Linked DNA regions of Homo sapiens. The protein of the gene in region 4 purifies or fractionates together with the protein of the main gene of each other region. This does not show direct contact. Each region holds a gene or a part of one and is shown on either strand. Other genes may lie near its edges.

Region 1 (3,500 bases), on a different chromosome or scaffold from region 4:
TTTTTTAAAATTGGGCTCTCTGTTACATAGTTTTTAAAAATTGATACGTCATAGCTGTACATTGTCTGCTGTTGTGGTGCCTGTATCCCCCACCACCTATATATATTTATAATAGTTGTACATATTTTAGGGGTACATGTGATATTTGATACCTTTATACAGCGTGTAATGATCAAATCAGGGTAATTAGGGTATCTGTCACCTCAAACGTTTATCTTTGTGTTGAGAAGATTACAATTCTTCTAGCTATTTTGAAATATAGAGTAAATCATTGTTAAATATAATTTCCTTATTGTACTCTCGAATACTAGAACTTATCGACCTGTATTTTTATACCCCTTAACCAACTTCTCCTCATCCCCTTGTAGTTTTTTTTTAAATTAACAGGCTTTTATTTTTTAGAGCAGTTTTAGGTTTCCAGAAAAAGTAAGCAGAAAGAATAGAGTTCCCTCTCCCCAGTTCAGATTCCCCTATGAATAACATCTTGTTTTGGAATGATACATTTGTAACAATTGAACCAGCATTGATACATTATTATTAACGCAAGTCCTTAGTTTACATTAGGGTTTACTCTTTGTATTCTACAGTTTTATGGTTTTTCCCAAATACATGTCAAGTATCTACTGTTAAAGTATCATACAGAATGGTTTTACTGGCCTAACATCCTTTGTGCTCCACCTATTCATCCTTCCTCCCCCCACTTCCCCAACCCCAGGTAACCACTGATCTTTTTAATCGTTTTTTTACTCTGCGTTTTTCACTTAACATTATATCACAAAAATTTCCCAGGGCATATTAAGTAGTCTCCAAAAACCATAGTTTTGAAATTACGGTTTTTGGAGAATACTTGGGATGCTGAGGCGGGAAGATTGCATGAGTCCAAGAGTTCAAGGTTATTGTGAGGTATTGATTGCTCCACTGTACTCCAGCCTGGGTGGCAGAGCAAGACCCTGTCTCAAAAAAACAAACAAAAAAGATTACCAATTTGGTAAACAAATGATAGTGTTTCAGAGTTTTCTTTTGTATCTGTCAGATTAATTTGGGGAAATACTGTTCAGATCCTTTGCCTTTTTCTGTTGAGTCATTAGTCTTATTATTAATATATTGTATATCTTTTCTTACAGATCCTTTTATCCTGCCACACCAGCAGGTTGATAAAGGAGCCATCAAATTTGTACTCAGTGGAGCAAATATCATGTGTCCAGGCTTAACTTCTCCTGGAGCTAAGCTTTACCCTGCTGCAGTAGATACCATTGTTGTATCCTTCCCAGGCTAAAACTGCTGAAAAATGTATTCATTGTGCTCTTATCATTACTGCGAAAGGTGTACCATCCAAGAGAACATTAGATGTACTTTTTTGAAGGTTACTGTTACTCTTATCTCATGCCTTTCTGGTTACATTTGAAGTTGTACAAAGTAATTTTATTTGTTGCTACTAAATTATCTCATCTTAGGTCGTTTCTTAGAAGTTAAATGAGAACAAGTTACAGAAGAGTCTCAGCTGCATTTCAGCCCAGTCAGGGCCTACTGTTATCAGACTTAGGACACAATAGGGAATTCTTGATTACTAGGGGAAAGGATATAGATGATATAATTGGATCAGCTTTTTGGATATCAACTTGCCACTGTAATGTTCATTTTGACTTACTGACATACGTTGGAGTGAAAGCTCTCAAAAGGGAAAAGAATTTAGGCACCAGGTATAGGTATCTCTTACCAAGCAACAATTTTGTGTTAGGAGTGAATAGTGGGAAATATTGGCAACCTCCAACTTTTATTTTGAAAATTAATTATTTGAAAAGTTGAGTTTGGGGGCCTCAGAGCACGTTTTCTCAAAGAGAAATGTCAGAGTCCCAGATGGTCCTTAAAGATCGATTCAACTCATGACATAGCTGAATAATTCTGCATTATTTCCATTTCTACCATGCTGTTTCAGCTATTTTCTGGATTAAATAGATTTTTGTGACTATTCTGGACAGGAGAACATCTTCTCCTTTATCATAGCTAAAGTAGCCATTTGCCTCGGGTATAGAAAAGGAATGGTACTTGGTGGGAATAGGGAAACTACTTTTAGAGTGTGTTTATCTTATTTTAGTTTTTGAGATGGAGTCTCGCTCTGTCGTCCAAGCTGGAGTGCAGTGGCACGATCTTGTCTCACTGCAACATCTGCCTCCTGGGTTCAAGCAATTCTCCTGCCTCAGCCCCTCGAGTAGCTGAGGTTACAGGCACCCACTACCACGCCCGGCTCATTTTTGTATTTTTAGTAGAGACAGGGTTTCACCATGTTGGTCAGGCTAGTCTCAAACTCCTGACCTCAGGTGATCCACCCGCTTTGGCCTCCCAAAGTGCTGGGATTACAGGTGTGAGCCACCACACCTGGCCAGGGGTGTGTTTAAGAAGAATAAGAAAAAAAAATGATATTCTCTGTTGGGGCAGTTATAGCGAAGAGGTAGTATAAGTAGTATGTTTATATTCTAGGAACAGCTTATGTTGACATGCTTTTTGCCTAATAGGTGCTCACATATTTGGAACACTGAGTGAATTGAAAATCAAGGGAGAAAAGTGAGGACGGGTTTTTTGTTGTTGTTGTTTGTTTTTAATATTTATTAAGTGTTGGTAAATTTATAGTTCTGGAGTTAACCTTAAATGGAAAATTTCCTTAGTACCTAGTCTTTACTTTTAAAAATAATTTTTATTTTGAAACAGTTACAGATTTAGAGAAAGTTGTTAAAGAAAATGGTACAGAGAGGTCTTGTGTACCCTGAATCTTGACTTTTTAAAATATGTACTGCAGTGTTTAACATTCCAGAAACTTCATATGTTAACCAAGACCACTCTGGTTTTTCTAGAAAGGTTGAAACTGTTATATCAGGCTCTTAAAGATAGACTGGGAATTTACCTATTATTTTAAAACAGCCTTTACATAAAACCACCATTCAGGCCGGGTGTGGTGGCTCATGCCTGTAATCCCAGCACTTTAGGAGGCTGAGGCGGGCAGATCACCTGAGGTCAGGAGTTCGAGACAAGCCTGGCCAACATGACGAAACCCTGTCTGTACTAAAAATACAAAAATTAGCTGGGTGGGGTGGCATGCGCCTGTAATCCCATCTACTAGGGAGGTTGAGGCAGGAGAATTGCTTGAACTCAGGAGGCAGAAGTTGCAGTGAGCTGAGATCATGCCACTGCACTCCAGCCGGGTGACAAAGCAAGACTCCATCTCAAAAAAACAAACGGCCGGCTATGGTGGCTCACGCCTATAATGCCACCACTTTGGGAGGCTGAGGCAGGCGGATCATGAGGTCAGGAGTTCAAGACCAGCCTGGCCAACATGGTGAAATCCCATCTCTACTAAAAATACAAAAATTAGCTGGGTGTGGTGGCACACGCCTGTAGCACCAGCTACTCGGGAGGCTGAGGCAGGAGAATTGCTTGAACCCGGGAGGCAGAGGTTGCAATGAGCCAAGACTGCGCCATTGCACTCCAGCCTGGGCAACAGAGTG
Region 2 (3,500 bases), 4.2 Mb from region 4:
TTTAAAATTTTTAAGAAGGCTTAAAAAAAATTGTTTTTGTTCCCCAAAGTGTTCAAAGAGGCCAATTTAAGAGCAATTCCCAAATCTAATTATGCACTAGTAACACTTTTCTATTTTTAAAACTCAGGTCCCCACTATGTACTTTCCAACATAATTATGTTTGGAACCAGGATTCTCATAATAGGAGAAGGGAATTCAGTAGAGGAAAGATGAAGGAGAACTCTATTGTGTTGATTTTGCATTGTCCCTGAAAAGGGCCCCAAAACTGAGCACACCTGGCCCCCAGAATTTGGTTTCTAAAGTTTTCTTTCTCTAAAAGAAATCAGAGGTCCTTGGAGAAACTGCCATATCAGATGTGAAAGTAAGGTAAGATGAGCTTAGAGCAAGCAAGTGCTCGCAGACTAATAGGAACATGCCAAAGGAAAGGGGCCTTCCACTGAACAAATTTGGAACCCTTTGGGCATGAAAAAGAATGACAATAATAGCGTACTAACAAACGGAATTGAAAACTACCCATAAGATATCCTCTAGTCCCTGCTACTTGGGAAGGTGAGGAGGGAGGATTGCTTGGGCCCAAAAGTTCCAGACCAGCCTGGGCAATATAAAGGAGGCCTTGTTTCTATAAAAGGAAAAAAAAAGAAAAGAAAAATATCCACAGGTCTATAGTGATACTTAAAAAATATGCGGGAGGCTCTTGCAAACAGAAGAATGCTAGTTAATAACTGTACGATGATAAACTTAGAAGTTCAGTATAACAGATTCAGGCATGGATTTTCAATGATGCTAAGATCCACTGTGTGAAAAGTTGTTGGGGACTAGAAATTCATACAATTTCACGATACCACCTCAGACTAACAAATGCTTGTGGCTGACACTACTTTAACCATGTGTGTGAACTCAAACAGGCCAAAGCGAAATGTGTCTTCAGGATGTGATATCATAGGTAATACAAAACAACACCTAAGTCTTCTTGCCAAAATATTTCACCTCAAACTAATCTTAAGGAAACAAACACATACAGATGAAAGTCTATAAAAACAACTGACTTGGACTCCACAAAAATGCAAATGAATAAAAAACCAGGGGAGGTAGGAAACGTAAGAGATACTACCACTAAATATAACACATAATCTTAGTTTGGACCCTTGATTTTTCTAAGAAATTGAAACAACTGGGGAAGTTGGAATATGGATTACTTTTTTTTTTTTTTTTGAGACAGAATCTCACTCTGTCGCCCAGGCTGGAGTGCAGTGGCATAATCTCGGCTTGCTGCAACCTCCACCTCCTGGGTTCAAGTAATTCTTGTGCCTCAGCCTCCCAAGTAGCTGGGATTACAGGCGTGCGCCACCAGCCCAGCTAATTTTTGTATTTTTAGTAGAGATGGGGTTTCACCATATTGGCCAGGCTGGTCTCGAACTCCCGACCTCAGGTGATCCGCCCAGCTTGGCCTCCCAAAGTGCTGGGATTATAGGCATGAGCCACTATGCCCAGCCTAAATATGGATTGATATTATCTATCAATATTACTTTGGGGTGTTTTAACGGTATTGAACTTATGCAGAATGTCTTTGTTTCTTAGGAAATACGTGCTGAAATACTTAGGGTAAAGTATCACAGTATCAACAACTTCCTATCAAAATAGTTCTGTAAAAACGTAAACAGCAAAAGTTAAAAATTGGTGAATGTAAGTAAAACTTATGAGTAATTATGTACTACTCGTTCAACTTCTGTCTTTTGAAATTTCTCAAAACAAGCTGAGGGGAAAAAAAAGGAAATGCAACTATTTCAACACACCTGGTTATTCCACAAGTAATTTGCAAAAATATAATGAGCAATTCTTAATTTTAGTTTATAATTCAATTTATAATTTCTTAAAAATAATTTGTTAGAAATAATATTACCTTAAAACTTCTGCATATTTTTTAATAGCCATCTCCCAGTTCTGGGATTTGAAAAAAGTATTTCCAATGTTTTTTAAGTCTTCTGTTATTAATAAAATTTTATCTACCTGTATAAAAAAATACAAATATGTTGGATTTTAGTAAGTAATGTGGTTTAATGCTAGATTCTATCATATGAGAGACTGAAACAAAAGCTCAAACTTTTAGTACTAAATATTTTCACTTACTAAATTAATTAAAGTTTGACTAATCTGAAAGTACTCACATCTTTTAAATCTATATCCGCATCCTCAGGGAAATCTGGATGACTGTCGCCAGAGCCATCTTTTGGGAATATTCCCCCGTCATCTCCTTCCTTCAATTCTCCACATTCTGCAATAACGCACAACTGTAAAAATAACCCTAAATTGTAGAAGTGCACTATCGTAATAATGAGAGATAAAAGCTATACAGCTGAAGTCATGTGCAGCACTGTCCAATTCACAGATTTATGTGAGAAGGCTCATTTATGTACTATAATGCTGTTTTTATACATTCCAACTAATACGACAATGTTAGTATTTACATAAGCATTTTATTGCTATTCAGGAGCTCAATAAACACAGAATAAGTTGGCAATTTTATCATTGTCTATGTAAGTGGCATTAGGTGGGGCATGAGCTTCCGGTTTACTACTATTCTTGTCATACACTGAGTGACAGCCTACCTCCTACAAGTAACTGAGCTTCCAACTCCCACTCACAACCCTGTCACTTAGGCTGGGTAGTATTATGGTCGTTTAGGGGTTTTTCTTTTTTTCTTTTTTTTTTAATAGAGACAGCATCTCACTATGTTGCCAAAGCTGGTTTCCAACTCCTGGTCTCAAGTGATCCTCCCACCTCAGCCTCCCAAAGTGCTGGGATTACAAGCATGAGCTACCATGCCCAGCCAATATTAAGGTCATTTTGATTCACAGACATTAAGTACACAAGGGTCTTCAGAGATAATCTAGTCTAAACCCATAAGTAATTTAGACAGGAGAAAACACGTGTGGAAAAGTTAAGTAACAAAGTCAAGGCCAAGCCTCTAGTTAATGCTACAATCCAGACAAGATTTTGGGCTTATTATCCTCATTCCACTATGTACTACTATACATACCAACTGAACAGTTTTGCAGGTATAGGAAGACTTAACGTAAACTAGCAAAGATCACCAAATGAAAGTTGAAATAATAAAAATCTCCTTTAAAACTACCCTAATTGTCTTTCCCATTGTAGAAAAGTTAAAAAAAAAAAAAAAAAGTGGCAGATCCTGGCTCCTATACCCAAAATTATTATAACATTTTTCCAGCTAATAATCACCTGATCCTTTTACTTATATTTCTTTAAGATAGCAACTAACAGGCTGGGTGCGGTGGCTCATGCCTGTAATCCCAGCACTTTGGGAGGCCGAGGTGGGCGGATCACAAGGTCAGGAGTTTGAGACCAGCCTGGCCAACATGGTGAAACCCCGTCTCTATTAAAAATACAGAAAAAATTAGCCGGGTGTTGTAGCGCGCGCCTGTAATCCCTGCTACTCAGAAGGCTGAGGCAGGAGAATAGCTTGAACCTGGGAGACAGAG
Region 3 (3,500 bases), on a different chromosome or scaffold from region 4:
GTGGAGCCCCATTGCTGAGCTTACAACGTCACTCTGCTCTCAGCTCCCACGGCCTAACCATGACCATCCTCCCTGCAGGCATTGGTTCCTGTCACCATTGAAGTAGAGGTGCCCTTTGACCTTCACCGTTACGTTATTGGGCAGAAAGGAAGTGGGATCCGCAAGATGATGGATGAGTTTGAGGTAGACCCCTTTCCCGGGAGGCCATGTCACAGGAGTGGCCTGTCGCATCCTCTCCCGAGTGCCAGTGTCCTTTCTCAACTTCCTGTTGACTCTGCCTCCTCCTGCTCGGACTGGGCACTGACTTCCCTTCACGGCGGGTGGCCTTCCCTCTCACCACTTCTGGGTCCCAGGGCCAATGGACTCTTTCCTGTTCTCTGGGGTCCTGAACGTCAAGTCAGCCCCCTCTTCACGTAGGTGAACATACATGTCCCGGCACCTGAGCTGCAGTCTGACATCATCGCCATCACGGGCCTCGCTGCAAATTTGGACCGGGCCAAGGCTGGACTGCTGGAGCGTGTGAAGGAGCTACAGGCCGAGCAGGAGGACCGGGTGAGCAGGAGGTGGCCGGGGCACTGCCCAGAGCCATGGTGCTCAGCTTTGGGCACATGTCAGAATCTAGGGAAGTTCTTCAGGATCCCAGCATCCCAGCGACATCTGGCTGGAGGTGAGATGCAGGCAGTGCCAGGACGCAGTCAGCATCCAGGGGTCTTGCTGTGGAACTAGCCAAGAGCATGGCACCTTTCTCTTTTTCATAAAAAAGTGACAAAGTTGGACTTCCGTGTAAATTTGCAGTTTCTCTCAAAACCAAATCAGAGTGGTACCTCAGACCTACAAGAAAGGTCAAGGTTGCGAGAGGCCCCCAAGCATGTGCTATGCAGTGAGGACGAGCATCGGGGACCCCCACTAACCTCTAGCACAGGGTGGTCAAAGGGCGAATGACTTCCTGGTAAGCAGGGATGAAACCCCCCCAACCTCTGGCAAGGCTGACGTTTGAAGGATTGTATGAGCGGAGCGCTGCAGACGCCCAGCCTCTGGCAGGGCTGACATTTGGAGGATTGTGTGAGCAGAGTGCTGCAGACAGGAGCAGGGGTTCTGGAACTTGGAGCAGACTGTGCTGGGGTGCTGGTTTGCTAAGGGGGTTGGCTTTCCACTCCTCCCGTGAGCACGTCGAGTCTGGTGAATGGGGTGGAGCTCGTGAACCTCACATGGTGTCAGTGTACCCCTGCGTGGACTCTGGGTTGTCTCCTGCAGCCAGGTCATACCTGTAGCCTTTGGCCATGGGTGTTCAGGGGCTGTGGCTGCCCCCTCTTCTTGGTCTGCATCTGCCCCAGTCCTAAAAAGATCCAGAGCATTTCTGTGCGTATCCATCAGATCCCTGTTTGACAAATGAGGAGAGCGGGGCCCCAAGCTCGTGACTCACTGCCTAGCTCTGTCAGTTCCTGAGCACGATCCTCGCAAGTGGTCCCAAGCCCTCTTTTGAAGGATTTATAGACCTCCTTGTGGAGCAGCCAAGTTCCCTGGTTCTCATTATTAGCAGATAATGGAAGGTGGCAGAGGTCGGACCAGAGAGATGGCGGACCATTCCGGACCACGGGTTACAGAACACTGCAGCATCTCCAGTGTCCTATGACCAGGGTGGAAGGGGAATGGAGTCACAGGGTGGATCAGCTCAATCTTTGCCTCATTCTTGCTCCTTTCATTTGTAGGCTTTAAGGAGTTTTAAGCTGAGTGTCACTGTAGACCCCAAATACCATCCCAAGATTATCGGGAGAAAGGGGGCAGTAATTACCCAAATCCGGTTGGAGCATGACGTGAACATCCAGTTTCCTGATAAGGACGATGGGAACCAGGTGAGAGCCTCGGTTGGAGCGTGTCGGGGGCAGAGGTGCTTGTTGACCTTTCCTGTGACTTGGGAGCAGTAACCAGATGTGCCTAGATGGGGGTTCGAGGGCCAAGTTGAGAGTGGCAAGTCTCTCAGGACCTAATTCTGGCTTGAGGTTTGGGCTGTGTCTCGGTACTTGCCAGATGGGTGAGGTCTCTGGCACTATGTATCATCTGGGGCCTGGAGCATTTTCTCCTGCGTCTCCTTCCAGAAAATGAGCAGGAGCTCCAGCTGGGTCCTTGATCAGTGGCGCCTCCAGGTGTAGCTCATTCACCTGTCACCCGGGCCTCTCTGAGGCTCCCAAGGGCTCTCATTCACCTGTCACCTGGGCCTCTTGGGGTCAGGTGGACATTTCTCTGCAGCCCCAGCTGCAAACACCGTTGTGCTTGCCAGATGGTCCTTAGTAAACTCTTGTTGTTACTTCCTCCAAATTGCAGTGCCACCCCCCTGCCACTGGCCCTCATGGCCTCCTGCTTCACTCAGAACAAAATGAAAGGCAGCCCCATCCCCTCTCTGGGCCCTGCCACCTGGCATGCAGGGCAGCCTCACCCAACACCCCCTCTTGCACACACTTCCCAGGCTTGGTCTTTCCTGGCTCTGGCATCCTGCTGGGGTGTCTGCTTCCTAGGCGTGTCCAGCACAGCTTTGCCCACAGTGGGAGACTAGCAAGCCTTGGTGGCCACAGTTGTGCTGGTTTCCAGAAACAGCAAACCCCCTGGCAGCAGAGCCCCTCCACGCCCCTCGCTCCCACTGTGGATGTGCCGCCCAGGGTTTTCCGCTGCTTCCCCTTCCCCTTCCCCTTCTTCCTCCCCAGCTTCTTGTTCCCTTTTGGATCTTTGAGTCACACACACACCAGCCAGGCCAGGAGGGCCCTCCTGCACCCTGCCTCCTCCAGCTCCCACGTCCTCTTCCCTCCCCACATACATTTTTTAATTTTTAGTCTTGATCTTGAGAGTTTAGTTCTTTTTTTTGAGAGAGATAGTCTTTGTCTTGTTGCCCCAGGTGGAGTGCAGTGGCGCGATCTCGGCTCACTGTAACCTCTGCCTCCCGGGTTGAAGTGATTCTCGTGCCTCAACCTCCCAAGTAGCTGGGACTACAGCTGTGAGCCACCGCTCCCAGCCCAAGAGTTTAGCTCTTTTAAGCCCCTCACCCTTATTGCCTTTTATTTCCCTCTACTATTCTATATAATTATCAATCTTAAAAGTCATTATAGGTGAGTCACAGTGGCTCACGCCTGTAATCCCAACACTTTTGGAGGCCGAGGCGGGTGGATCCCCTGAGGTCAGGAGTTCAAGGCCAACCTGACCAACATGGCGAAAGCCTGTCTCTACTAAAAATATGAAAATTAGCCAGGCGTGGTCGCGTGCACCTGTAATCCCAGCTACTCGGGAGACTGAGACGTGAGAATCGCTTGAACGCAGGAGGCGGAGGCTGCAGTGAGCTGAGATCATGCCATTGCACTCCAGCCTGGGCGACAGAGTGAGACTCTGTCTTTAAAAAAAAAAAAAAAAAGTCATTGTTTAGCAATTAGACTATTCCATCTAATACACCATGAGCCAAGTGGGGTGGAGCAGTCATTTCTTCACAGGCAGCTTTTTCCTGTGAGCTGTGCTTC
Region 4 (4,136 bases):
ACCCTACAAGGAATGAGGCAGAAATATAATACAGAGTGTTATAGAAGATTTGGAATGTAACTATTCCAACACCCTCATTTTATAATTTAGGTTATCACAAGCTTGATAATTTGCTTAAGATCCATCAACTGGCTGGTTGGTGATAGTGAATCTGTAGGTTGCTTACTGTTCAGTAACAGTAGAAAGACCAACTGCACAAAAAAGCTATGATGCAGTGTAGTTTTTAAAGAGAGGCCTTAGGATAAAGCTGTATCAGATTATGAATAGTAATGACCTCATATTCCTAAAACATACATTGGAACTTACGAAATTGTAAAGAATCTATACTGTCAAGAAGAATGAATATTCTCAAGCCACTTGGATTGTTAGATTCCTATGATTATTGTTAATCATTTCCCTACTTTCATTTTTGTGAATTGGTGATTAGACTCCTATATAAACATATTTAAGAGACATTAAAGACTTATTAAAGGTTGATTCTACTTGGAATTTATTTGTAATAAGACAATCTTTGACCCTCATAATGTACTCTGGAGCTCGGCTACTTGTAGGTCTTGACCGTAGGGTTGACTTACAGCTATGAGACCTTGGGCAAGTTGCTTTATCTGTGCCCCAGTTTTCTCATCTGTAAAATAAGTGTAATGATAGTTTGAATCTGCCTTACAAGATTATTGTAAGGATTAAATAACTTATTGCATATGGTACCCTCAGAACAGTACTTGGCAATAATAAGTGCTCATTACTATTTTTACTGGAATCACACATAACAAGTACTACAGTTTAAGTGTCCTCTCCACTTCGAATTTCACTTTTAGTCTTATCTTCTATCAACAAAATTATTTGTTAAACCATTATCTTGAAATTTCTTACATGATTTCTTTATCAAACATTATGATTTTCTTATATTTAAAATAATTCTCAAGGCTTGTGCATTGTAATTAAAATTACTTGCTAACTTAAAATATTATATTAAAGGATAATGAAGCAGAAAATACGCATTGCAATAGGAAAGTTTTGATTTGGATTAACTACATTCTCATTTTTTTTTTTGTCAGTAGCTATACATCCTTTGGAGCTTAATTACAAATTAACAAACGACATGATTTGGAACAACTGAGCAACAACTGAGCTCTCTTGCAATTTTGTGAGTCTAGAAGTCATCAGATGAACTCTATTTGGAATTGCATTGTCATTTATTCATTAGATTATAATATTATTTAACATTTAGTAGGATGGTGCTAAGATTAAAACCCAGCCAGGCTGGTTCCAGATTTTCCTGTTTAACCAGTTGACTATATACATTCTTAATATGTAAAGATTCGGAGGATATATACATATTTCACATTGAAGTCATGGTCCTAGTCAGAGCTTACCCTCTCTAAAACAAATTTTAAGAAATGTGATTCATCTGCTTATTACAAATACAATTATAACAGAGAAAACTATTTTCTTTTTATTTCAGAGTGCCACTAGAGAGGTAGCATGGATGGTCTGGCTTTACTAGAGAAAAGGAAATTTTAAAAAATATTTAAAGAAAGTATATACTTAAAGAAAAACACTTAAAGAAATTATGAAGGCCACTTGTTGAATAATCAAAATCCATTTTAAAGCCTAAACTATTAAACTATCTCTGTGAGGTTTAGTTGATAAGCAGAAATGTGAAAGTGCTTTGCAGAGTACTTTACAAAAATTTCGTCTTACACATTCTTTACATTTTTCTTACCTAATATGATTAACCAGACTTAACCAGATTAACCATATGTTTTTACACACACAACCAGATTAACTATATGTTCTTACATGTAGAGTCTGATAAGTACAACACTCAAGTTCCCTTGAAACTCAATAATGATCCGAAATGAATCACTTCATTTAAATATTATTGTGTATTCTTATTTCTAGTTTAATGATACTATGCTATATGTAAGAAATTTGGCCATGATACGTTTGATGATAAAATTTAAATTTCTTAAATATCCATTGTCCTAAATGCATTTCTGTATTTTTAGTAACTGCAAATTAACAGCAATAAGTCAGCAAAAATAATAGTTGAGGACAAACTGTTCTACAAATAAATAAATTAGACTGAACCGTGTTTCATAACTATTAATAATAACAATACACACTAACTCTAATTTGAACTTTTCATCTGAAAAAAGCAATATTTCATTTTCTATCATTACACTTGATGTATTTTGCTTTTAGGCTTAGTTATAATTTTTATAAATAGTAATCTCAGTAACAATATATATTACCTTCCTTCACCAAAGAACAATCTACCTACCACCAGTTTCTTTTATCTTAAAATTCTGCTCTTTTATTATTTTATAGTTTGTGAGATTTTCAGATCTTGTCCTCTTAATTGTAATCCTGTATTGCTAGAAGTAAATGAAAATCACAGTACTCAGAATAGCAAGTGAGAAAAACACATCTTACATTAGCTAAGCCATCCTCATCTTAAGAAAACAAAGGTGATAAACTAGAAAACAAGAAATTACTTTGTTTTTATATAAGAAATACTATGAAACATTCTTTAAATACAATAAGTCAGAGGTTAACAATTCCATTTCATAACTATAAGCAATGCTAATTTCATTAAAATAAGCACATAATATGATTATGTTACATCTTATATTAATAATACTACTAATAATATAATAATGCTTTAAAAAATTCACCTCCTCATTGTCGTTGACACCTTGGGACTTAACTAGAAAAACACACAATAGTAGCAATAATAGATGTTTCATGGTTTTAAGTTTGTGGAAGCTCCAAGAAACCATCCTTTTCATGTAGACTTAACTGAGAGATCTTCAATCCTATATATATCTGAGTCCTCTGCTAGGAATGACTTCAGAAATGGTTACCTTTCCTTAGTTAATATTTAATTTTTGGTTCACTTGTTGGCTGAACCATTTTATCATTTAAGCAACATCTTCCCAGCAAAGCTTATTTACTTGTCATACAACTATTATTCTTTGTTGGTCTAGTTTAGAAACATTAAATTTCTTCAATTCATTTAATTGGACAAAATGATGGGAAGTTAGGGCACTCCTCAAAGAGAGATGTGTATCTTGTTTCTGGTAAATTAATGTGGAAACTACACAAGCTCCGAAAGAATATGTGAGAAAACAAATCTAAGCTTAGTAAATTTGACCTACTCACAAGGCAACCACTAAAATCGTGACTCATTAATGATATACCATAAATGCTTATGTTTTCTGACAATGACATAATTCTATTTCAAAAGGGGCCATTAAAATCAATAGTAATGTTATATCATAATGTGTTTATCTTTTGTTTTAGACATTAATCAAAATAACAAAATAACAAATTCATACCCTATTCTATGAAAAATACACATCAGAAAGACCCTTTTTTTGTGCTGAATAGCTTTAATATTTTGTCCTTAATTCACATAAGGTAAAATGTTCAACAAATTCTAAACATTATTAAGATAACTAATAAATTATAGATTTCTGAATCAAAATTATGATGATGATTAAATACATGTTTAACATTCTATTTTATTGTTATATAGTTTATATCATATGATTTATAAAAACAATGTTATTTTAACACTGGTGAAGTCTTCATACATCTATTTCAATTAGTATGCTCACAGACTAAATGAGGCCCATTTTCCTTCATTTCCCACAAGCCACAAAATTTATCTCTCTTGTCTGTTCACTTGTGTGTTGCAATCAGGATTAATAACTCCTACAAGAATCAATAGGAACACCAGTCAGTAATCCAAATCCCAGTAAGTGCATTGATTCAAAGCATTTTTCTGTTTTTTGTATGGAAAGTGAAACATTCTCATTAAATTTATAAATTATTTTATTAAAAAGATGGCAGGTTATCAGGGTTTGGATCAGCGTATTGAAACAATGCTTTGAAACAGAGTCTTGAGAATGGTGTGGGACCCACGACATTTCTTTCTTCTCCAGGTAGCAGAGATTGCATTCCCAAATTCTTTTAACTCAGATTCCTAGAAACAAATTATTCTCTTGGTAGCATAGGTTGTCCTCCCAAATTCTTTTAACTTAGCTTAATAGAGACAAAGTACTCAGTTTAAATTAAGAAAAAATATTCACTTGAGTCTTTCCAAATTTGTGTTCCCTTTATTAGCAATG

The links. The genes of interacting proteins can lie anywhere in the genome.
Region 1: the proteins of FGB (region 4) and MCTS1 purify together in Homo sapiens (affinity purification with mass spectrometry; 2 studies listed by BioGRID and IntAct, with this or other methods). This does not show direct contact.
Region 2: the proteins of FGB (region 4) and PPID purify together in Homo sapiens (affinity purification with mass spectrometry; 2 studies listed by BioGRID and IntAct, with this or other methods). This does not show direct contact.
Region 3: the proteins of FGB (region 4) and HDLBP purify together in Homo sapiens (affinity purification with mass spectrometry; 2 studies listed by BioGRID and IntAct, with this or other methods). This does not show direct contact.

Annotation. Positions count from the first base shown.
Region 1 is NC_000023.11:120,607,101-120,610,600, forward strand, and holds part of MCTS1 (malignant T-cell-amplified sequence 1), read left to right. Parts: intron 1-1,124; coding exon 1,125-1,258; intron 1,259-3,500. UniProt on the Homo sapiens protein: Translation regulator forming a complex with DENR to promote translation reinitiation.
Region 2 is NC_000004.12:158,713,397-158,716,896, forward strand, and holds part of PPID (peptidyl-prolyl cis-trans isomerase D), read right to left. Parts: intron 2,289-3,500; coding exon 2,166-2,288; intron 2,008-2,165; coding exon 1,901-2,007; intron 1-1,900. UniProt on the Homo sapiens protein: PPIase that catalyzes the cis-trans isomerization of proline imidic peptide bonds in oligopeptides and may therefore assist protein folding. Proposed to act as a co-chaperone in HSP90 complexes such as in unligated steroid receptors heterocomplexes.
Region 3 is NC_000002.12:241,232,173-241,235,672, reverse strand, and holds part of HDLBP (vigilin), read left to right. Parts: intron 1-78; coding exon 79-183; intron 184-417; coding exon 418-552; intron 553-1,709; coding exon 1,710-1,853; intron 1,854-3,500. UniProt on the Homo sapiens protein: Appears to play a role in cell sterol metabolism. It may function to protect cells from over-accumulation of cholesterol.
Region 4 is NC_000004.12:154,561,675-154,565,810, reverse strand, and holds the start of FGB (fibrinogen beta chain isoform 1 preproprotein), read right to left. Parts: upstream 2,801-4,136; 5' UTR 2,793-2,800; coding exon 2,679-2,792; intron 4-2,678; coding exon 1-3. UniProt on the Homo sapiens protein: Cleaved by the protease thrombin to yield monomers which, together with fibrinogen alpha (FGA) and fibrinogen gamma (FGG), polymerize to form an insoluble fibrin matrix. Fibrin has a major function in hemostasis as one of the primary components of blood clots.